Linked DNA regions of Homo sapiens. The protein of the gene in region 1 purifies or fractionates together with the protein of each later gene. This does not show direct contact. Each region holds a gene or a part of one and is shown in the gene's direction. Other genes may lie near its edges.

The links.
Region 2: the proteins of ABL1 (region 1) and NEDD9 purify together in Homo sapiens (affinity purification with western blotting; 2 studies listed by BioGRID). This does not show direct contact.
Region 3: the proteins of ABL1 (region 1) and STON2 purify together in Homo sapiens (affinity purification with mass spectrometry, with the first as the bait; one large-scale study listed by BioGRID). This does not show direct contact.
Region 4: the proteins of ABL1 (region 1) and NCKAP1 purify together in Homo sapiens (affinity purification with mass spectrometry; 2 studies listed by BioGRID and IntAct, with this or other methods). This does not show direct contact.
Region 5: the proteins of ABL1 (region 1) and SHC1 purify together in Homo sapiens (affinity purification with western blotting; 5 studies listed by BioGRID, with this or other methods). This does not show direct contact.
Region 6: the proteins of ABL1 (region 1) and INPPL1 purify together in Homo sapiens (affinity purification with western blotting; 2 studies listed by BioGRID, with this or other methods). This does not show direct contact.
Region 7: the proteins of ABL1 (region 1) and LRRC59 purify together in Homo sapiens (affinity purification with mass spectrometry; one large-scale study listed by BioGRID and IntAct). This does not show direct contact.

The regions. Positions count from the first base shown.
Region 1 is NC_000009.12:130,852,254-130,855,753, forward strand, and holds part of ABL1 (tyrosine-protein kinase ABL1), read left to right. Parts: intron 1-1,810; coding exon 1,811-1,984; intron 1,985-2,547; coding exon 2,548-2,843; intron 2,844-3,500. UniProt on the Homo sapiens protein: Non-receptor tyrosine-protein kinase that plays a role in many key processes linked to cell growth and survival such as cytoskeleton remodeling in response to extracellular stimuli, cell motility and adhesion, receptor endocytosis, autophagy, DNA damage response and apoptosis.
Region 2 is NC_000006.12:11,191,169-11,194,668, reverse strand, and holds part of NEDD9 (enhancer of filamentation 1), read left to right. Parts: intron 1-976; coding exon 977-1,078; intron 1,079-2,222; coding exon 2,223-2,324; intron 2,325-3,463; coding exon 3,464-3,500. UniProt on the Homo sapiens protein: Scaffolding protein which plays a central coordinating role for tyrosine-kinase-based signaling related to cell adhesion. As a focal adhesion protein, plays a role in embryonic fibroblast migration.
Region 3 is NC_000014.9:81,390,325-81,393,824, reverse strand, and holds part of STON2 (stonin-2), read left to right. Parts: intron 1-3,500. UniProt on the Homo sapiens protein: Adapter protein involved in endocytic machinery. Involved in the synaptic vesicle recycling. May facilitate clathrin-coated vesicle uncoating.
Region 4 is NC_000002.12:182,926,958-182,930,457, reverse strand, and holds part of NCKAP1 (nck-associated protein 1), read left to right. Parts: intron 1-1,558; coding exon 1,559-1,675; intron 1,676-2,231; coding exon 2,232-2,341; intron 2,342-3,500. UniProt on the Homo sapiens protein: Part of the WAVE complex that regulates lamellipodia formation. The WAVE complex regulates actin filament reorganization via its interaction with the Arp2/3 complex. Actin remodeling activity is regulated by RAC1.
Region 5 is NC_000001.11:154,964,773-154,967,747, reverse strand, and holds part of SHC1 (SHC-transforming protein 1), read left to right. Parts: coding exon 1-77; intron 78-1,203; coding exon of another isoform or gene 1,204-1,230; coding exon 1,231-1,429; intron 1,430-1,516; coding exon 1,517-1,586; intron 1,587-1,667; coding exon 1,668-1,802; intron 1,803-1,966; coding exon 1,967-2,205; coding exon of another isoform or gene 2,206-2,379; exon of another isoform or gene 2,380-2,462; intron 2,463-2,975. UniProt on the Homo sapiens protein: Signaling adapter that couples activated growth factor receptors to signaling pathways. Participates in a signaling cascade initiated by activated KIT and KITLG/SCF.
Region 6 is NC_000011.10:72,237,207-72,239,647, forward strand, and holds the end of INPPL1 (phosphatidylinositol 3,4,5-trisphosphate 5-phosphatase 2), read left to right. Parts: coding exon 1-590; intron 591-835; coding exon 836-969; intron 970-1,056; coding exon 1,057-1,147; 3' UTR 1,148-1,941; downstream 1,942-2,441. UniProt on the Homo sapiens protein: Phosphatidylinositol (PtdIns) phosphatase that specifically hydrolyzes the 5-phosphate of phosphatidylinositol-3,4,5-trisphosphate (PtdIns(3,4,5)P3) to produce PtdIns(3,4)P2, thereby negatively regulating the PI3K (phosphoinositide 3-kinase) pathways.
Region 7 is NC_000017.11:50,387,524-50,391,023, reverse strand, and holds part of LRRC59 (leucine-rich repeat-containing protein 59), read left to right. Parts: intron 1-2,891; coding exon 2,892-2,964; intron 2,965-3,500.

The DNA.
Region 1 (3,500 bases):
ATCTCAGCTCACTGCAACCTCCGCCTCCCAGACTCAAGCGATTCTCCTACCTCAGCCTCCTGAGTAGCTGGGACTAGTAGCTGGAACTACAGGCGCCCGCCACCATGCCCGGCTAGTTTTTTCTATTTTAGTAGTGACGGGGTTTCACCGTGTTGCCCAGGTTGGTTTTGAACTCCTGAGCTCAGGCTCAGGCAATCTGCCTGCCTCAGCCTCCCAATGTTCTAGGGTTACAGGCATGAGCTACTGTGCCTGGCCCAGTTAGTGATTTTTAAATTGTAGTTCCTTAAATGAGTATTTTGGATTTCACTCCACAATGTTCTTCAACTGTAAGATCTACTTGAGGTTATTTGATTTGCTGGTTTGCAAGAACTCGTCTACACGTTGTCTTTATCACAAAGAAATTCTGGAGCGTTTGAGCCCTGTTCAAAAAAAAAAGGCAAGAAGAAACTTCAGGAACAAATAACCTATTTGACCCTGTAATGAATAATATTCACACATTTTCTAATTTAAGAGCTGTTGATTGATTTCCAACTTTTAGAATCTGTTTCAGACAAAACATGGAAGTTTAGTAACAGTTTTTTCTATTCTGTAATAATAATTGCCACAAGGTTAAAAAAAAAAATTTACAGAAGAACATATTTGAGGGTGGTCGTGGGGGCAAGAAAGCTGGAAGGACGGGTGGGGTGTGTTAATAGCCTTGTCTTGTGAAGTAAGTCCTCAGAGACGCTGTCCTAGTTGGAAGAACAGGCAGTGAAGGTGTGCGTCTGTTACGGAGAATAGGACTCCAGTGATCTAGCTGGTACTTAGAGAGGTGGGGGTGATCACCAAAAAAACAGCTCTGCCTCTGGGAGCGGAGAGGACTGGGATAGAAAGTATTTGTCTTTCATTTTAAGCCCTTCTGTACGATTTGACTTTTCTTTTTTTTTTTTTTTTTTTTTTTGAGATGGAGTCTCACTCTGTCACCCAGGCTGGAGTACAGTGGCACGATCTTGGCTCACTGCAACCTCCGCCTCCCAGGTTCAAGCAATTCTCCTGCCTCAGCCTCCCAAGTAGCTGGGACTACAGGCACCTGCCACCATGCCCGGCTGATTTTTGTATTTGTAGTAAAGACAGGATTTCACTGTGTTGGTCAGGTTGGTCTTGAACTCCTGACCTCATGATCCACCCCCGGCTTTTTTTTTTGACACGGAGTTTCTCGTTACCCAGGCTGGAGTGCAGTGGCGCAATCTCTGCTCACTGAGACCTCCACCTCCTGGGTTCAAGCGATTCTCCTGCCTCAGCCTCCTGAGTAGCTGGGACTACAGGTGTGCGTCACCATGCCCGGCTAATTTTTGTATGTCTAATGGAGACAGGGTTTCACCATGTTGGTCAAGTTGGTCTCAAACTCCTGAACTCAGGTGATCCACCCACCTTGGCCTCCCAAAGTGCTGGGATTACGGGCGTGAGCCACCATGCCCGGCTAAAGCAAGAAATTTTCATTGCATATTTTAAGCAAAGGCAAATGCATATGTGGATAGACTGTTTTAATTTGACTAAAGTCATATTGAATCCATGAATTTTAGAAGCTCAAACTATTGGGGAACAATAATTACCACCTTGGAGTGAAAATACTTAATTTCCACAAGATTTAGTAAAGGAAGAGTTTTTTAAAAACCACCTTAATGATAATAGTATGTACAGATGTTAAGAAATGAAATAGGAATGTGTAATGTTGGAAACACAAATATTTTTGCTTCTGAGAATAAAACTAATTTTTTCTCCCAATTTTCTCTTCCTTTTTCTTTTTTCTGTTCCCCCCTTTCTCTTCCAGAAGCCCTTCAGCGGCCAGTAGCATCTGACTTTGAGCCTCAGGGTCTGAGTGAAGCCGCTCGTTGGAACTCCAAGGAAAACCTTCTCGCTGGACCCAGTGAAAATGACCCCAACCTTTTCGTTGCACTGTATGATTTTGTGGCCAGTGGAGATAACACTCTAAGCATAACTAAAGGTAAAAGGGTTGTGGGCAGCTAGTGGTGGTTGCAGGAGATAGAAATCTGGGAATTGCGGTTTGACCTACCACCCTTTGCTCGTTAAAGGAGCAGCTTTGAAATCTGGACTGCAGGGATATCCAAAACAACAACTGCATGTTTCTAAGGGAGTCGACTCTCCTTAGAGGAGTTCTTGTACAATAGCCCTGGGCAAAAACAGAACTTGCCCTATTTTTTATACTGAAAAGGACAGCTGGACAAAATACTGAACGCAATTTTTCCCCTAAGAAAAAGCATTATTTCCCTAAAATGTCTTATATTAGGAACAGAGCACTTGAATAAACATAATTGATTTATAAAAACTGAGGCTATACACTTACCTATCTGTTCAGTACAAACAGGAAGCTTCAAATGTAAACGTGAATTCTCATACACTTATAAATGCATATCTTTATGTGGACTTGTTAAAATGAAATTGGTATTTAGGAATTTGGAGATTTTTAGTAGTTACACAAGAATCAATGAAAAAGAACGAAGCTGGTTTCCAAAGCTGATATGTCTGATTTGGTTCCTTTCTTCTCAGGTGAAAAGCTCCGGGTCTTAGGCTATAATCACAATGGGGAATGGTGTGAAGCCCAAACCAAAAATGGCCAAGGCTGGGTCCCAAGCAACTACATCACGCCAGTCAACAGTCTGGAGAAACACTCCTGGTACCATGGGCCTGTGTCCCGCAATGCCGCTGAGTATCTGCTGAGCAGCGGGATCAATGGCAGCTTCTTGGTGCGTGAGAGTGAGAGCAGTCCTGGCCAGAGGTCCATCTCGCTGAGATACGAAGGGAGGGTGTACCATTACAGGATCAACACTGCTTCTGATGGCAAGGTAGGGGACCCTTGGCAGGGGGCGCTGATGGGCCCAGGGCAGGGGAACCAGAGGTCCTGCTGTCGGATTGATAAATTATTGCAAGAAAGCTCAACCAAGAAGATGTTTAAAGAATCTTTCAGGTGGGAGTCATTCCATTAGCCTTATGAAGACCCTTTATTGAGGATCCGTTCTGTGATATTACAAGTTCCTGGGACTGGTATGATTCTCTTATTGTCTTGCTAGAGTTTTGTTGTTAGCAAGTTACTTAAAATAGGAGGAATATCTGTTGGGTTTTGGACACATTTTTTACAATAAGATTCTTCCTTTAAAAAAAATATTTTATAATGATAGAAATCATCCCCAACGAGAAAAATTCAAATAATAGATAACCTTTCTTAGAGCGAAAGACCACTTTACTATCCCCTCCCCCACAGACGCCTGGCACGTGGGCTTCTTCCTGCGGATGAACACATTCATGGAGAGGTGTGTGGACATACGTGCATACACGCATGCAGTTTTCAGTGAAAACCGGGATCAAACCCACAGCTTACCAAACCCAAAGTGTGGTGTTGTAAGGGAGGTGGCCTATATGATTTTGTGGTCTTCATATAAATAATCCTTAAGAGTCCATAAAGAGAAGGGAGGAGTTAACATTGACTGAGGTATTGCTATAAT
Region 2 (3,500 bases), on another chromosome or scaffold:
TGGGAAAATGATTAGAGACCAGAGGTCAGGAGACCTGAATTCTGTTCCTGGTGCCTCCCTGACTCAGTATTTTGTTTGTTTGATACGTTAGAATGAAAGCTCCCAGAGGTTTCTAAGGACAGCACAGTTTGAGCATTGGCTTTGTAAAAGTACTCTGGTGACCTGTGGAATTACAGTTATAATCATCATAATAATGTCCAATGAAGAGGCATACTGAGGAAGGCATGAGAGGAATTTTAAGTGGCTAAACTCTATTTGCATTATTCATTTTACAAATTGTTTCAGAGCCTTAAAGCAAATTTCAGTATGCGGTACTTTAGATGCAAAATGCTCCTCTAGGACTTTCATAAGTTACACACAAGTATCCCTTAAAGTATATTTCAGAAATATGCTTGCAGTGCATCAACTCTATCTGATGAACTTTGAGATGATCACAATTAAGGGTGATAGAGATATTTTAGGGATTTTTTTTCTCATTGGGATTCAAGAGGGATTTAAAAGTTTACTAACCTGGGCCAGATGCAGTGGCTCACACCTGTAATCCCTGCACTTTTGGGGGCTGAGGTGGGTGGATCACCTGAGGTCAGGAGTTTGAGACCAGCCAACATGATGAAACCCTGTCTCTACTAAAAATACAAAAAATTAGCTGGGCATGGTGGCGTGCACCTGTAATCTCAACTACTCAGGAGGCTGAGGCAGGAAAATCACTTGAACCCGGGAGGCAGAGGTTGCTGTAAGCTGAGATTGTGCCACTGTACTCCAGCCTGGGGAGCAAGAGCAAAACTCCATTTCAAAAAAAAAAAAAAAAGTTTACTAACGTGGTGTCTACTTGTCTCCTTCCTGTTATGTCTTCTTTCTTTGGTTTCTTTCTATCTTTTTATGAGGGAGAGTTGAGGGATGAGTGCTTAGTTAGGAGGCAAGGAGATTCAAGGACTCAGGCTTGGAAATTTACACCTCTGTGCCTTCTCTCCCACAGGTGATAACCCCCGTGAGGACAGGCCATGGCTACGTATACGAGTACCCATCCAGATACCAAAAGGACGTCTATGATATCCCTCCTTCTCATACCACTCAAGGGGTGCGTACCAGAACATGGTCACAAGAGGAGAAGCGCTTCTAAGGGTAGCATTCCTTCAGGGCTGTAGAGAAAAGGGAGTTCACAAATTATGCATTAATATATGTCATATGAAGCTTTGTTTAGGTTGTCTACCCAGTAGCCACTTTAGCCAATGCTATTTAAATTATGTTTTCTGGATTTGCTTTATCAGGAAATCCTAGTATTTCACCCAAGAGAGCTTATGTTCTTCTACAATTTTGCTTCAGAAAGTAGATTTTTCTTTTTTCTTTTTTTTTTTTTTAAGACAGAATCTCACTTTGTTGCCCAGGCTGGAGTGCAGTGGCTCTATCTCAGCTCACTGCAACCTCCACCTCCCAGGCTCAAGCAACTCTCCTGCCCCTGCCTCAGCTTCCCAAGTAGCTGGGACTACAGGCACACACACCACCATACCTGACTAATTTTTGTATTTTGTAGGGACAGGCTTTTGCCATGGTGGCCAGGCTGGTTTTGAACTCCTAACTGCAAGTGGTCTGCCCACCTCGGCCTTCCAAAGTGCTGGGATTACAGGTGTGAGCCACGGCCCCCAGCTGGAAAGTAGAAAATTTAAACTACACTTTAAAGTACAGACAGCGTAGATATTTCACATAAGATCTTTTTTTTTTTTTTTTTTTTTTTTTTTGAGACAGAGTCTTGTTCTGTCACCAGGCTGGGAGTGCAGTGGCACGATCTCAGCTCACTGCAACCTCTGCCTCCCGGGTTCAGGCGATTCTCCTGTCTCAGCCTCCCAAGTAGCTGGGACTACAGGTGTGCACCACCACACCCAGCTAATTTTTGTATTTTTAGTAGAGATGGGGTTTTACCATGTTGGCCAGGATGGTCTCGATTTCTTGACCTTGTGATCTGCCCACCTCAGCCTCCCAAAGTGCTGGGATTACAGGCGTGAGCCACCGTGCCTGGCCAAAATCATTTTTATATTAAATGTAAGTTAAAAACCATAAAATGTATTAAAAAAAAAGGCAATAAATCTGTTATAACATGGAGCACTGCCAAAGATCAAGCTTGTACATAACCTGGTAAATAAATCCATAATTAAGTGCTTAGGAGCATAAAAAATGACCAAGTATAAGACATTTCCATTCTGGGTAACTCACGGGTTTCTCTTCAGGTATACGACATCCCTCCCTCATCAGCAAAAGGCCCTGTGTTTTCAGTTCCAGTGGGAGAGATAAAACCTCAAGGGGTGTATGACATCCCGCCTACAAAAGGGGTGAGTGAGTGACTACAAAGCAGCAAAAAGGAGTGTGTGTGTGTGTCTGTGTGTCGGGGGGTGCAGGGTTGGGAGGGTGGGTAAGTAGTTCACTCGAATAAAACAAGAAAGGCAAACCCAAAAGGGGAAAATGTAGTCTTGGTGAGAGTAAAGGAAGGAAGCAAAAAAGGAAAGGCACTAATTAAAGATAGCTCTAGGGATTTCATATTGAGAAGCCCCAACTAAAAAACACTAGGTGGCCAATAAGGATAACCCTTTGGCAGGGAAGATAATTAGTTCAGTTTGGCAAGTACTAATATATATTTGTAGAGGGTTTGTTTTGTTTTGTTACATTTTGTTTGAGACAGGGTCTCGCTCTGTCACCCAGGCTGGAGTGCAGTGGCGCAACCACAGCTCATTGCAGTCTTTACTTCCCAGGCTCAAGCAATCCTCCCACCTCAGGCTCCCAAGTAGCTGGGACCACAGGTGCACGCCACCATGACTGGATAAATTTTATTTTTTGTAGAGACGGTGTCTCCCTATGTTGCCCAGGCTTGTTTTGAACATATGGGCTTAAATGATCCTACTACCTTGGCCTCCCAAAGTGCTGAGATTACAGGCTGAGCCGCGCCTGGCCTGTAGAGGGTTTGACAGTTTCCTCAGTGTGTATGTTTGAGTGAACTCGTTTGACTCACTCTGTTACCCTATGGGGTATGCCTGCACAGGAGGCACAGTAATCCCTACTTTACAGACAAGGGGACTGTGTTTCAGACGCCTATGCAGCTCATTCAGCATCACACAGCTGGTGTGATAACCAAAAAGACCGGGGGAGAACTCTGGTCTTACTCTGCCTCTCGGCACAGATCAGCAGAGAAAGGATACCCAGGAGGTGGTCAGAAACACAGGACTGGAAACACAGGGTGAGCAATTTAGCCAGGAGGGTTGTACATACGAGTCTGCACCAAGAACGTGGGGTTGGACACACTTGGCAAAGGACAAGGGAAGTGACAGCAGAATAACGGGGAACCTTGGAAGTGCCTAACATTGGGGCGGGGGAGGGCGACCGAAAAAGTGCCAGCAAATAGGACTGAGCACATGGGACCACAGGTTCCCATGAGCCAACTCAATAAATAGCATTTCGCTTTCTACTTGCTTTGCAGGTATATGCCATTCCGCCCTCTGCTTGCCGGGATGAAG
Region 3 (3,500 bases), on another chromosome or scaffold:
CCCTTACTGAACACCTAACACTGAGAAGGCTCTGGGCTAAGTGTTGATGCATGTAGGGAAAAGTTACGGAACACTGGGCAGTGAATGAGCACAGAAATAATGTTCCTTCTGCTTAATATGATACATTTACTGCATACTTATTGTCTCAGTTTCTGTGCTCAGTGCCTTAGCTACTTCATATCATGTACTCCTTACAACAATTGTATGAGGAAGGTATTAATATTAATCCATATTACACATGGTGGAGGAGACTCAGCCAGAAGTGGGCTTTGGGAATTCAACCAAGATTGTGTGCTAGGAAATGGCAGGAGAGCTTCCGCACCAGGCTGACCGGCCCCAAGGTCTTGGAGCAGCCTTCGGATGCCCTGTGCTCTCCTTCCGTTTGCCTCACTCTTCCTGCTGCTGCTGCTGCTGCTGCTCTAGTATCCTCTGCTCCCTCATTACCCAGGAGGCAGTGGGGGCAAGGAATGGAAGGTAAGTGATGGGTGGGGTGCTCTTTCTCCACTTTGCTGCCCTAAAATGGCCGTGCCTTCAGGTCATGGATTATATTCATGCCATTCAGATTCTTTCACATTTTATCTTTAGCCTCAAAGATTTCCTGATTGCTCAAAACTATTTATATGACAGTCAATTTGCTCAACTCTTCACTGATTTTTCCAAAACTAATTTTGAGATTAGTCATAATTATGTTGCCCCCATCTGACTGAGGATCTTATCTTGTGACTGACAATGCTTTTGATATATTGTGAAAGCTTTACCCTTTAAGGCAGCAATTCACAGTCTGGCCCATAGACCTTGCTGTCTCCTGAGACCCTTTCAAGGCGTCTTTGGGGTTAAAATCATTTTCATTCTAATTCTAAGATGTTATTTGCCTTTTCACTGCATTGACATTTGCATTGATGGTTAAAAAATAACAGCAGATGAAACTTTTGGCCATTGTCTACTCACAGTAAAACAAAATGTATATTTCACCCAATAATATCCTTGATGAGGCAGTAAAAATTATTAATTTCTTAAAATTGTGATTCTTGAGTATGTCTTTTTAACATTCTCTGTGACAGATTGGGAAAAAATACATGAAGCACTTTTGCTCCATATCAAATTGTAATAATTGTCTTGAAAAAAAAGTTTTTAAAAAAATATTTAAGAATTCAGTTTAAAAATTAAAGTTATTTTAAAATTATTTTTTAAAATCACATAATGCAAAAAATTCTTAATGAACAAAATATCAGTACTTTAAAGACAAGATTCAATTAACACTTTCATGACTATGCTACACTTGGCCCACCTGGACCTGGTGTTGCAGGAATTTTCCTAAAGTTCAGCTAAAGATGGGGTCCTTGTCCATCCCACAGCCATGAAAATTCAGGCTCACAGATGGTTTGAAGGGTAAGTAAAGCAGGGCTTTATTGGGTGAAAAGGAAAAAAGAGGGGAAACAGGGACTCTCAGCGAGGCCAGAGTTCATCTAGAGCACTTCCGGACCGCGCCCAAATCCCAGGTTCCACACAGGAAGAGGAGGGGCCAGGCTCTTCCCTGCTGCAAGTGGCACAAACTTCCGCAGCTCCACCCCAGTGCACAGGCCAGTTGGAGTTTTTCTGGGAACCCCCTCCCCTCTGGCTGTCTCACTGGTTCTAATAAAGCTTTATTTACAGAGATAGTCAACCTGTGAGCTGTAGTTTGCTGCTTTGATTTTGAGTTGATATTTTTAACATATTGCCTTAAAATGTTACTTTGATTACTGAGTTTTTTGGCACCCTCTTAAATTTTACCTCCAAGGCAAGTGTGTCACTTGCCTTAGCCTAATCTCAGCCCTGCATTGTCCTAAGAATTTTAGATGTATTAATATTACTAGAGAATAAATCAAGAAATGACAGTGTTCAAATGCATGAAAGCATAATTTTGAAAACTGCTCAAGTATGAATAATTCCATCTGTTCATATGTGTGAAAATTTAACTCAACCCTGTGGAGATGGAGTTTTCTACCTTAGGAGGGTCCTGTAGGATGGGTTCCCAGCAGACTTGATGCCCAGTCTGTAGGCAAGAAGCAGAAATAAACCATGTGGAGGGCCAGCCCCACCTCAAGAAGTGTTTCTAACCTGGAAACCCAAGGAGCATAGGGGACGGTGCACAGCATTAGAGTGGTAAAGAAAATGGTTCAATTCCAAATTTTCTGCCAATACCCAACTTGACCCATCAATGAACCTAAACTGAATCAAAAGCTGCAGAGTACATTCCTATTACCCAAACTAACCTCTCCCACATAAGCTAATTCCCTCTTGGGTTTCCTCCCATGGATTGTGTTTAACAATAAGGATAGAGTAATTGGCAGAGCTAAGGCCAATTACACAGGAGAGACTAGGCGTTAGCCCCCCACTCCTGCCCCCACATAATGGATAATGTAGACATTCCCCAAGTTACACAGTCATTCCATTCAGGAGGCTGTTGTGCAGCTCAGATTTTAATTTGAATCCAAAATGTTTGAATGCATGTGCTGTATATTGCAATAATACCACATATGTAACTGCAGGCATTATGCAGAAATAACACAGATGTTTGCAGCAAGTAGAGACAGTGTGAGACTTGCTGCAATCACTGCTACCTGCTCTGTTCTTCCAGTAATACTAAGCTGAGTAATGGCTCCCAAAGACATTAGGTTGTCCTCCCTGGAACCTATAAATATTATCATATTTGGGAAAAGGGTCTTTGTAGATGAGAGTAAGGATTTTGAGATGGGGAGATAATTCTGGATTATCTGTGGGCCTTAACTGCAATCACATGCATCCTTATGAAAGTGGCAGAGGGCGATTTTGCTTACACAGAAGAGAAGGCACTGTGAAGATGAAACAGAAAGAAATTTGAAAATGCTGATCTTAAAGATTTTAGTGATGAAGCCACAGCCAAGGAATGCCGGCAGCCACCAGAAGCTGCAAGATACAAGAAACAGATGCTTCCTTAAAGCCTCTGCGGGGAGTGCAGTTCTGCTGACATCTTGATTTTAGCACAGTGATTCTCATCTCAGACTCTGGCTTCCAGAACTGTGAGAGAATAAATTACTGTTGTTTTGAGATACCAAGTTTGTGGTAATTTGTTACAGCAGCCATAGGAAACTAATGTACTAAGTCTGTAAAATCTTAAAATGGAACCCTTTGCATAAGGCTGAGAATGAGTCAGTCTGAATTAGGGGAGCATCTGTAAATCTGTAATGATGCAGGACTTTTTGTTTGTTTGTTTGTTTGTTTGTTTTTTGTTTTGTTTTTTGAGACGGAGTCTCGCTCTGTTGCCCAGGCTCTGGAGTGCAGTGGCGCGATCCCAGCTCACGATGCAGGGTATTTCTTAAGGAGATGTGTGCATGTCAGTGTGCTTTGTCCCTAAACCTTACAGCTCCTTATAATTTACTCATTGAGTCACCAGATATTTACTAAGCACTTCCTCTGTATAGTTCTGCTAGGTGTGGATATTCAAAGACATAGCGCAGTGCTCAGAATTGAGCAGAAATCCA
Region 4 (3,500 bases), on another chromosome or scaffold:
AAGAGGATCCAGGTCTGAGCCTTGAGCCATTCTAAGATTTAAGAGCTCAGGGAGAAAAGGAAAAACCACGAAAAAAGAAATTTAGAGAAATTGAGAAGAAAGGACCAATGAAGTAGAAGAAAAACCAGGAAAGGGTAGCTTCCAGGAAGATAGAAAGGAAATGATCAGCTATGTAGAGTTAATTGGTGGTACTAACAAGATCAGTGTCAGTGAGGTTTTATGGGCAAAAGGCTGAGTAGTGAGTAAGGGAGATTAAGGGAGAACAGGAGGAAAGGATTTGGAGATAACTAGAAGACAACTCAAAGAGTTCTATTGTAAAGGGAAGCAAAGAAATAAAATCTCACCAGCTGGAGGCAAGAGCAAAGTCAAGAGAAGGATTTTTTTAAGATGGAGGAGATTACAGCATTTGTATGCTAATGGGAGATGGTCCAGTAGATAGCAAAAAATTGAGATCTAGGAAAGGGTATTCTGTTTTTATTGTACTAGAGTTATTCACCATCAAGAGTTTTATATAAAACATTTAGAAATTTTTAAGACCAGCCCTTAGAAATGCAGTACTCAGAATCCTGTAGATATTTCTTGATTTGTCTACAAAGTAAATATAGCATTTCATCTCTTTCTACTACTAAAATGCCCCTTCTGCCTCCTTGAGGCAGCAGCATGGTGTTTGAGTTCATCAGTTTTTTTTTTTTTTTCATTTAACAATGCAATTTTGTTTCCTCATTCATACAGTATGTTACATTTAGTCACATGGATAATTATAATTATTACTTGATTTGCTACAGCTGTATTTTTTGTAGTCGACCAAATCTTTAAAACATATTTCAGCTCTTTTCTTACATTCAATTCTTAATTATATCTAATGGTGATTAGTAGCCTAAATAACCCACAATTTGAGTGCATATCACAATAAATGTTTTAGAAAGGGTTATGTCTTGAAAGCTTTAGAGCAATGCTGGGTATTTTTATTCATGACTAGTTTCTTCTGTCTTCTTCTGTCTTCTTTTATTCATGACTAGTTTCTTCTGTCTTCTAAAATAGAGAGGTTGAAAACCCATTCCACTTTCCACATTTATGTCTTTTAAATAGTAAATTTCAAATTATATTCATATCTCTTTCAAAAAGTAATTAAGATTTTTTTGGTGATTTTGCAGAATAATTTATAAGTTTTCTAAATTGTAAATAGAACTGTCTCATAAAGTAATAATTCCTCATTAGTTTTCAATTAGGAAATTGTAGGATTGCAGTTATCCTAACTGTATTTTTTGTTCTATAATCTTACAATTAAAAAAAATAAAATCTTACCTTACTGTTTTATCAGACGTCCTTGAAATATGCCTAAGTAGTTGATAATAGTCCATTGTAATATAAACTGTTTCTACTTTATATTTTTATAACAAAATTGTGACCAATTCTATAGAATGCTAGTAAAATAGTTTACTATTTCAAAAAAAAAAGTAAACCATTTTTAAAATAAAAATCTGTTTAGTTTAGATTATCAAATCTTAACTAATCTTGAAGAAATACCTTGATTTTATTCTTAATTTTTGTCTCTTAGAAAACATTAGTCCAGAAGAAGAGTATAAAATTGCCTGCCTTCTCATGGTGTTTGTGGCAGTTTCTTTGCCAACACTGGCCAGTAATGTGATGTCTCAGTACAGCCCTGCTATAGAAGGTAATAGTGGTTTAAAATTGTTTTGGCGATGAATAAATCATGGGTTTTGGTATTTTATAATAAAATATGAGTTAAGTTCTGCCACTAACTGGCAGTGGAACATGGGGTAGTCTGTTTCCCTTTTCCTAAACTGCAGTTTCCTGATATATGAAATGTGTGTAAGTAAGCTCATGTGTGCCTGAATGTGTGTAGAGGTCGGTGAGGGATTATCCAACTCATAGGATTATTTTAAGGATTGAATGGTAAAATGTTGTAAAGCAGCTAAGCACTTCCTTTTTATTTCCGAGCTACTATAAAACTGATGTGTGATTTCTTTTAGATGTTTTCAGAAGTGTTTGCCTGTTTAACATATACACGATCGTTTGTTACTCTCCTGTTAAACTAGTTTTAAAAACATCAGTGTTCATGAAAGTCAAAGGAGAGCAAGTCCGGTCATGTCCCAACTCTACTCTTAATTATGCCCCTATTTATGCAGATTGTGAAGTCATTAAAGATTTGCCTTCTATGTATTATTTGCTATTTTGGGGTCTACACAACCCTATTTGCATTTTCTCAGGGCATTGCAACAACATACATTGCTTGGCCAAAGCCATCAACCAGATTGCTGCAGCTTTGTTTACAATTCACAAAGGAAGCATTGAAGACCGTCTTAAAGAATTTCTGGCGGTATGTATAATCAAATAACAAAACTCATCACATTTTATAAAGAAAACTAAAATTCACAACCACAAAATGTAAGAATAAATTCTCTTTATTTTTACATTTTATTTAGTGTCCTCTAATGGCATTTTGTTTTCAAATTATTTTCTCAGGTATATGAATTTCAGTCTCCTTTTATTTTTATTTGTTTATTTTCTTTTTTGGAGGGAGAAACAGGTGAAGGTGGGGCATTAAAATCGAGGAGCCGTCCGTTATTTCCCTTAGACTCGGAAGTCTCTTTCCCAACTCTAGAGCTCTGCAATATGACCTTTTTTCCCCAAGCTGATGTTTGGACTGCCCTAGAAATTTTCCTAGGCTTGAAAGAGAAAAAAAGCAAAGGAAAATTGAGGCCAAGAGAGAAGCTATTCCCTCTAAAAAGACATATTTTACTTTTTTCCATTTCTTTGGAGAAAGACAATTAATGGTGAAAAATTCATCATTAAAAATACTACTCACTACCAAGAGAGAGGAGTGCTAAATGTAGCCTCATGAAACATGGTTTTTAGTTTCTCTATCAATGTAGTTCTTTCTTTTCTTTATTAATATAACCTTTTCCATATTTTATTTAAACGAAAGATATACCATGGCATACTGAACTCTAGAACATTTACTTCTTTTTCAGTTATAAATCCTGTCAGCTTTTTTAAAAAATAATTTTTAAATTACAAATGCAAATATAGTACTAACTTGAGGAGAAAATAACTTCTATTTCAAGGAAAACACTATTAAAAATTTTAAGTGTTTCTTTCCATTTGCAAATAATTCCTTCACTCAGGGTTTAATGTCTTAATCTTACAGTGTTTCTGTGAAGTCAAATCCAGTGTGAAACTGTCTTCTTCCTTGGGAACTAAGAAATATAGTCAGTATAGATAATGGGATGGGATAAGAGAAAATAATTTGAATCATTTTAAAAAGCAGACTTGTTCTGAAAAAATCAGTTTTAAAGACCAATAAGAATATTTGATTACATTTATTATGTTAGTGTCTCTTTGTGCCTTAATTACTCTCTAAATTACTGCTTGAATGTAGGCTATCTAAGCTCATCTTATTTAATTGCTCATTATTTTATATTTAGCACTGAATGATTGAAATGTGTTGGAAGTTGAAACATACCTAAAATAAGTAA
Region 5 (2,975 bases), on another chromosome or scaffold:
ACCATTGGCCAGGCCTTCGAGTTGCGCTTCAAACAATACCTCAGGAACCCACCCAAACTGGTCACCCCTCATGACAGGTGAGCAGGTGGGGAGAGTGTGGAGCAGCTCTTGGATTAGGATTAGGAAAGGAGGGCTGCTCTTCCTACACTTGAGTTGAGAGGTTCAGGGAGGGAATAACCTGTGTGCCTCTGCTTCCCACTTCCTGCTATTCTTCTGTTTCCTGTGGCCCAGGAGGAAAGACTTTTGAGGCCCTGCTTGCCGCAGGACCAGCTTTTCTTGTTTGCTCATGGTGGAGTTGTAGTCCGGGGCCTCCAAGTTACATCTCTCTCTGGCTAGGTGGGATTTTCTACTCCCATCCCTCTTTCTTGCTCATTTCTCTGCTTGGCATTATGTGTTTTCCTGCCTCTAGAAGCCATCAAGAATTTGGGTTTGGGAGGATATCTCTTTTCCCTGAGATTACAACCTTTCCCACCTCAGGCCTTGAGGGATAAGCAGTGGAGCCAGTAGGGATTGAATATTTAGGAGAGGTTAAAATATTCTGGAGCTGGAGTGCCTCCCCCGGCCCCCCACCCCCCTACATGGTGCTTCCCTTCCTTGTTGGGAGATAGCACAGAGATCAAGAGCAAGAGCATTACTTATTTGAGACAGTCTTGCTCTGTAGCCCAGGCTGGAGTTCAGTGGTACAATCACAGCTCACTGTAGCCTCCATATCCTGGGCTTGAGTGATCCTCCCACCTTAGCCTCCTGAGTAGCTGGGGCTACAGGTGCATGCCACCACACCTGGCTGAGTAGTAGTATTTTTATTCTGGTAGAGATAAGGTCTCGCTATGTTGTCCTGGCTGGTCTTGAACTCCTAGGCTCAAACAACCCTCCCTCCTTGGCCTCTGAAAGTGTTGGGATTATAGGCGTGAGCCATTGCACCTGGCCAAGGGGATGAGCTTTAAAGTCAAACCTGAATTTAAATCTGAGCTCGGCCGCCTTTTAGTTGTGAGACCTTGGGCAGATCTTTTCACCTCTGACCCTCATTTTCCTCATCTGTAAAAGTGGGGAAGGAAACAATACCTACCTTACGGGGTTGCCAGGAGAATGAAATGATTATGTATATAAAACACTCAGCCTCAGGCTTAATCCATAGTAAATACCCAATAGATGGCTGCTGTTCTATTCTGTCCTTCCCTCCTCCTGCCCACCACACATTTACAGCCACAGCTTCACTGTCCTGTCCCTCAGGATGGCTGGCTTTGATGGCTCAGCATGGGATGAGGAGGAGGAAGAGCCACCTGACCATCAGTACTATAATGACTTCCCGGGGAAGGAACCCCCCTTGGGGGGGGTGGTAGACATGAGGCTTCGGGAAGGAGCCGCTCCAGGGGCTGCTCGACCCACTGCACCCAATGCCCAGACCCCCAGCCACTTGGGAGCTACATTGGTAAGTTGCTTGGATGGAGGCGGGCTGGGGCTAGGGTGGGAGTGGTTGGTTAGGGCTTCTGGTCTCACCTTATTTTTATCCCTGCAGCCTGTAGGACAGCCTGTTGGGGGAGATCCAGAAGTCCGCAAACAGATGCCACCTCCACCACCCTGTCCAGGTATGAAGGGAGCCGAGATAGGCAGAGCTGGGGAGTGTTGGAGGCAGGGCTGGGATCACTGTAGAGCCTCCCTTTCCTCAGCAGGCAGAGAGCTTTTTGATGATCCCTCCTATGTCAACGTCCAGAACCTAGACAAGGCCCGGCAAGCAGTGGGTGGTGCTGGGCCCCCCAATCCTGCTATCAATGGCAGTGCACCCCGGGACCTGTTTGACATGAGTGAGTGCTCGTCTCTCTCCTCTCTGCATCCCCACCTTTCTACTTGGTTCTGGCCCTTCTCCTGCCTATCTGCTCTTTCCTTCCTGACTTCCCTTCCCTGAAGTCTGGGTCTTGGGTGTGTGTTGTGCCTGCTACTTCCCCTCACCCTCCCTCTATACTTCCAGAGCCCTTCGAAGATGCTCTTCGCGTGCCTCCACCTCCCCAGTCGGTGTCCATGGCTGAGCAGCTCCGAGGGGAGCCCTGGTTCCATGGGAAGCTGAGCCGGCGGGAGGCTGAGGCACTGCTGCAGCTCAATGGGGACTTCCTGGTACGGGAGAGCACGACCACACCTGGCCAGTATGTGCTCACTGGCTTGCAGAGTGGGCAGCCTAAGCATTTGCTACTGGTGGACCCTGAGGGTGTGGTGAGTGTGGCAGAGGTGTGGGTGAGGGGTGGCAAAAAGGAAGGTACAGTACCCTACAGTGTATCCCTCTTCCTTCCCTCATTGCTTTGTAGACATTCCCGCTGGGCAGCTGTCTATGGGCCTCTCTTGCTCTTTAAAGTGTCTGGCATCTTCCTCCAGAGGCTCATCCCTTAGCCTGAACTATGTTCTTTATAGTCCTGGCACAGGGCCAGGCGTGGTGGCTCACACCTGTAATCCCAGCGCTTTGGGAGGCTGAGGCAGGTGAATCACCTGAGGTCAGGAGTTCGAGACCAGCCTGACCAATATGGTGAAACCCTGTCTCTACTAAAAATACAAAAATTAGCCGGGTGTGGTGGCAGGCACCTGTAGTCCCAGCTACTCAGGAGGCTGAGGCAGGAGAATTGCTTGAATCTGGGATGCAGAGGTTGCAATGAGCTGAGATCACACCACTGCACTCCAGCCTGGGTGACAGAGTGAGACTCTGTCTGAAAAAACAAAACAAAACAAATACAGTCCTGGCCCGTCCTCAAATCCCCAAGCCTTAAGCTTATCAGAGCTAGAAGGCAGTCATCTCATCTGTGCCCCTCTTTTGACAAATAAGGAAACCACCCTGAAGAGGTTGTGATGCCCAATGTCAGATGGTTAGAGGCTAGACACTGCAAGTTTCCTTTTGTAAGAAGATCCAAGGGCTTCTCCAGCTCCCCAGACTCAGGACTCAGACCACTGTGCTTTCTCTTATCTGCACTGCCTCACTGTTCTTCAAAACTTTC
Region 6 (2,441 bases), on another chromosome or scaffold:
TCCTTGAAGGGGTCCCGCACCAGCTGCTGCCCCCGGAGCCACCCTCGCCTGCCAGGGCCCCTGTCCCATCTGCCACCAAGAACAAAGTGGCCATTACAGTGCCTGCTCCACAGCTTGGGCACCACCGGCACCCTCGTGTGGGAGAGGGGAGTTCTTCAGATGAGGAGTCTGGAGGCACACTGCCCCCTCCAGACTTTCCACCTCCACCACTGCCGGACTCAGCCATCTTCCTGCCCCCCAGCCTGGATCCTTTACCAGGGCCAGTGGTCCGGGGCCGTGGTGGGGCTGAGGCCCGTGGCCCACCACCTCCCAAGGCCCATCCAAGGCCTCCACTGCCCCCAGGCCCCTCACCAGCCAGCACTTTCCTGGGGGAAGTGGCCAGTGGGGATGACCGGTCCTGCTCGGTGCTGCAGATGGCCAAGACGCTGAGCGAGGTGGACTATGCCCCTGCTGGGCCTGCACGCTCAGCGCTCCTCCCAGGCCCCCTGGAGCTGCAGCCCCCCCGGGGACTGCCCTCGGACTATGGCCGGCCCCTCAGCTTCCCTCCACCCCGCATCCGGGAGAGCATCCAGGAAGACCTGGCAGAGGAGGTGTGTGGAGCAGGGTGGCTGTCTGTGTGTGCCTGAGTGTGCTTGCCCACAGACTGGTACCCTTTCACTCCACCATTCAGCACTCATGGTGTCCCTGCTACCCTGAACTGATCACTGGGAAGTTGGGAGACACATGTATCAGCCCAGCCCTTCCCTTCCTTTTCCCCAGAGCATGCAGCAGAATGTGACTGCAGGTGTTTCTATGGGGGGCACTCAGCTCCCCCTGACATGCCCTGTTTCCTTAGGCTCCGTGCCTGCAGGGCGGGCGGGCCAGCGGGCTGGGCGAGGCAGGCATGAGTGCCTGGCTGCGGGCCATCGGCTTGGAGCGCTATGAGGAGGGCCTGGTGCATAATGGCTGGGACGACCTGGAGTTTCTCAGGTGGGGGAGGGGCTGGCCCCGGGGGCGGAGCTGGGGCCCTCAGGATCCCCTTGCCCATCTCACTTCCCAGCCTGTTTTACTCCACAGTGACATCACCGAGGAGGACTTGGAGGAGGCTGGGGTGCAGGACCCGGCTCACAAGCGCCTCCTTCTGGACACCCTGCAGCTCAGCAAGTGATAGCGGAGGCACCACGAAGCTGTGAACTCAGAGCCCCTCCCTGCTACCAAGGCCCAGCTATGGCCCCAGGGTTGAAAAGTTATGAGGGTCAGGGCAGTATCTCTCTGCCTATTTATTGGGGTGCCTATTTATTGGGGATCTGCATTCCCCGCTGCCCAATCATTTGCAATGCCCTAATTAGGGCATCCTGCCCCTCGCCTTTTAGGCTCAGGACGGAAGGTCAGTTGCCATGGTTACCGAGGACCCTGGTTACTCTGGTGCTGTCCTGTTTTACTGGACCCCGCCTCCCAGCCCCAGGGGTGCCTGTGGGGGTCCATTTGGGTACGTCTGGGCCCCCACTTTCACCAGTTTCTGCGGCCTTCCACCGGGCCTGAACCACAGCGGAGGAGCTCCGCTAAGACCTCCCCACCCCCGCTGGGGGTGGGGGCGGGTGTCCGTCCGGAAATGAAGGAATAGCCCGAGGACCGGGCTGGGGTTTATTTAAACTGTTCTGTGTGGGTCTGGGGAGGGAGAGCACCTTAATATTATTGGGGTTGGTTGGGGTGGGGCAGGATCTCAGCCATAAAGTGCCAGTTTGCTTAGTTCTCACTGTCTCCTGGTCTGTGCTGCCCTGCTCTGGGGATGCACGGCGGCAGGGTGGGGGAGGGAGGTTCCTCGCAGGTCTCAGCCCGGGACAGGGTCTTGCAAGCAGCCTCCTGGGCAGTCGTAAGGGTTGCGGCGTGATGTCTTCAATAAATTAAGTTTTATTTGGATTGAGTAAAACTTCAATAAATTACAAGTTTTTCAAAGAAAAAGGACAACCAAAAAAATTAGGGAAAGAGAATCCCTCTGTCCCATTCCCCAGGCAGCCCCTCCACTCCTCTAACAGGTCCACCCTCTGTGCCAGACGGGCTAGGGAAGAGAGGAGACACGTGAGGGATGAATTGGCGGTGGTCATTAATTATCCCGGCGACCACCAGCCTCTGTACGGGTGGGCCCGAGGGGTGGGGCAGCGGGCTTTCCTGATCACCAGCGTAAGGGGTGACCCAGCCGCTGCAGAGCCAGGGAAGGGGGCTGTGCCGATCCTCCTTGAGGACCTTCACTTTGAGGGCACTGTTAGGGACAGGCCTCATGTGATACCGCATCCAAAGAAGGCCAAGCTAGAAGGAGCTCCGGGGTTCTCCTGGAGGAGGTCCCGGTATAAAGAACTCCGCTCTGCTGGTAGAGGGTGGGTGAGGACGAGAGTGGCCCTGACTTGGTCTCCAAAGTTGGGGAGGACACACCGAGGGGTGAGACAGTAGGGAGTGGAGACGGA
Region 7 (3,500 bases), on another chromosome or scaffold:
TCATCCATCCATCCATTCATTCAGTAGGTAATATGTGGAACCATAGGAAATTGATGATATTCCAGTTTTTGACATACAAAAATAATTTTGATTGAGTACAAAGGCCTTTTGTATTTGCATATGTCTTTCAGACAAAGCTCCAGGCAGCATAGTGGATGTGGTAACTAAAGCCATGGTCCCTAGCACAGCTGTCCTAGAGCTGCAGCACACCTTTAGGCTTTGTAGGGAAATGGCCTGGGCCAGTCAGAATCAGGTCGTCTGTCTGCAGGAATTAGTTTAGGTCTTACTAGCTCTGACCAGGTAAGACCTAAACCCTGGTGGGTATATGGGTTAGTCTTAATCTGCTTGGTACATATTAAAGCAATTTTTAAAAATGATTTGTTCAATGTATTCATCAAGTGCTTACTGTATGCTATGAACTAGAGTAGCTAGACAAAAATTTACCCTCCAGGAGCTCACAGACTCCAGACTATGACAATCTGTCCCATTTCTGCATTGCCTGTGTTTTCAGATAATTAATTTTTTTTTTTTTGACATGGGGTCTTGCTCTGTCACCCAAGCTGGAGGGCAGTGGCGCACTCTCAGTTCACTGCAACCTGCGCCTCCCGGGTTCAAGCAGTTCTCCCACCTCAGCTTCCCAAGTAGCTGGGATTACAGGGGCATGCCACCATGACTGGCTAATTTTTGCATTTTTAGTAGAGATGGGGTTTCACCATGTTGGCCAGGCTTGTCTTGAACTCCTGACCTCAGGTGATCCACTCCCCTCACTCCTTTTCCTCAGCCAACACCCTGGACTCTTACTTTCCACACTCTCCCTGCAATCATGGCAACGGGACCCATAACTTCTCTACTGCCTGAGTGCCCTGAGCCCTAACTCTGGGTCCAGACCTGATTTCTTTCCTTTTTCTTTTTTTTTTTTTTTTTTTGAGACAGAGTCACGCTCTATCGTCCAGGCTGGAGTGCAGTGGCGCAATCTCAGCTCACTGCAACCTCCACCTCCCGGGTTCAAGAGATTCTCCTGCCTCAGCCTCCTGAGTAGCTGGGATTACAGGCGCACACCACCACACCCAGCTAATTTTTGTATTTTTTAGTAGAGATGGGAGTTTCACCATATCGGTCAGGCTGGTCTTGAACTCCTGAGCTCCAGTGATCTGCCCACCTTGGCCTCCCAAAGTGTGGGATTACAGGTGTGAGCCACCGCGCCTGGCCCAAACCAGGCTTTTGAAAGGAGATCCTTTTGCTGGTCTGCTCCTGAATACTTCTTATGATGGGTGTGTGCTTGTCTGGAGGTATGCGTGTCTGGAGTTTTCTAGAAATAAGAATTACATATGAATATACATGTCTGTCTCGTGCGCATGCATATTCAAATGTAATTGTTAAGTGCAGTAGTAAAACAAGACCCTTTTGCTAATAGTTTGGGTTTTCTTCTTTTTTCTTACTCACATGGTAAAGAAAATAAGCAGCAGTACTTACTGAGCACATATAATGCCAGAGATTATACAAGGCAGCCAATACAAGTTATATTATTTATTCTTCACAACACTCCATAGAAGTATATCTTATCTCTGTTTTCTCGATCAGAAAATCGGCTCAGAAAGGTTAAGTCACTTGCCAAGGTTATACAATAAGGGGTAGTCAGGATTGCGTTGGGCTCCAAGCTTACACTCTATCCCCTACAGCCAAAGAATACCACCTTTAAAAAAATACAAACAGAAAAGGTCTTTACCTCCTCCACCCACCATAGCGAGAATCTTTGTGATTGTGTGGTTAGAGGTCATCCATGAGCGAGTTTATGTGGATCTGGGGAGCTCAGATTGCCGAGTACAAGTGTGCTGTGTGTAGGCTTCTCTCGGAGCTCTCCTCTGCATGTGGTGAAAGTGTGTGCGACAAGCTCTGCCCTAGGAATGCAGGGGACTGTGCTCAGGTCTTAGCTGTGCTGCTTTCTGGCCATTAGCAGTGGACAAATCACCCTATGAGTCTTGGTTTTCTTCCTTTTGAAATGGGAATTAGCCATTCCTCATGTATGTATTGAATGCCTGCAATTAGCTAAACTCTGTGCTAGCCACGCCCCTGTGTGATACCTACAGACCAGACAGCGGTTCCTGCCATTAAGGAATCTGCCATCTTATGACCAAGCCAGATAGGTAGCAAGTAGCTACAATGTCCTGTGTTGAATTCCACAGGAGTAGATGGAGGGGGACTTAAGGTAGCCACAGGAGGGGCAGTCAGGAAAGCGTGTTGGAGGAAATGCTGTTCCCAAGTTGTTGCTGAGGGTCATATGGAATCATGCATGTGACAGTGAGTGTAAATGGCAGAACTTTTTACAGATTCGAGTTGGCATTGTGTTTCACTTTTTTCTGACAGTTTTAATGACCTTGGCTCATAGCACTCTTCTCCAACTAAGGTTGGCACAGTAATTTTAGGATACAAAGATACAATTAACTCTATTAGTTTGGTGGTGGTGGTGGTGGTGGTTGTTGTTTTGAGATAGGGTCTCAGTCTTCACCCAGACTGGAGTGCCATGGCGTGACCACAGCTCACTGCAGCCTTGACCTTCTGGGTTCAAGTAATCCTCTCTCCTTGGCCTCCTAAGTAGCTGAGACTACAGGCATCTGCCGCTGTGCCTGGCCAATTTTTTACATTTTTCTGTAGAGACAGGGTCTCATTATGTTGCCGAGGCTTGTCTTGAACTCCTGGGCTCAAGCAGTCCTTCTATCTCGGCTTCCCAGAGTGTTGGGGTTACAGGCGTGAGCCACCACATTCAGCCTAACTCTTATTAGTTCTACATTGCTACCATGATAATCTGGAAGCCTGAAAATAGTCTGTTTTTTGAGACTTCCCTGAGCAAACATGACTATGAAGAGCACTACTTTCCTCCTTTTCCTTTGCAGGTGTTACAGCACATGAAGGCCGTGCAGGCAGATCAGGAGCGGGAGAGGCAGCGGCGGCTGGAAGTAGAACGTGGTAGGTGGCTGTCCCTCTTGTAGTTATCTTTCAGGTCCTCATCCCAGCCAGTGGATTCTCATGCTTCAGGAGCTGGGATCCAGTAGAGTAGTCATGAAGAACAGTTAGTGGGCGGTGGGGGGACAGTATTGTGGTGGATGGTATCGTCTTTATCTGATGAATCTCTCTTCAGTCCTGGCTTCTCTGCTGTGCTCTAGAGGCAGTCAACTGCTTATATTTCATCTCTGCTTGGAGGGTTAATAGGCATTCATATGAAATGTGGCTAAAACAGATTCCTGATGGCCCTTCAGTCCCTCCCAGTGTTCCCTGTAATAGGAAATCACTTTCCCTATAGTTATTCAAGCCTAAAATAGGAAAGATGTTAATGACTCCTTTTTTTCTGTAATTCCCACATCCAATCTGTCAGCAAGTCCTATGTGGGACTGTTTCTCCAGCTCCGGTGCCATCTCTAACCAGCCACCATTCTGGGACCATCACAATGCCTTCCAGCATGTCTCCATGATGCTGCCATCTCCTTAAACTCATTCTCTTCACAA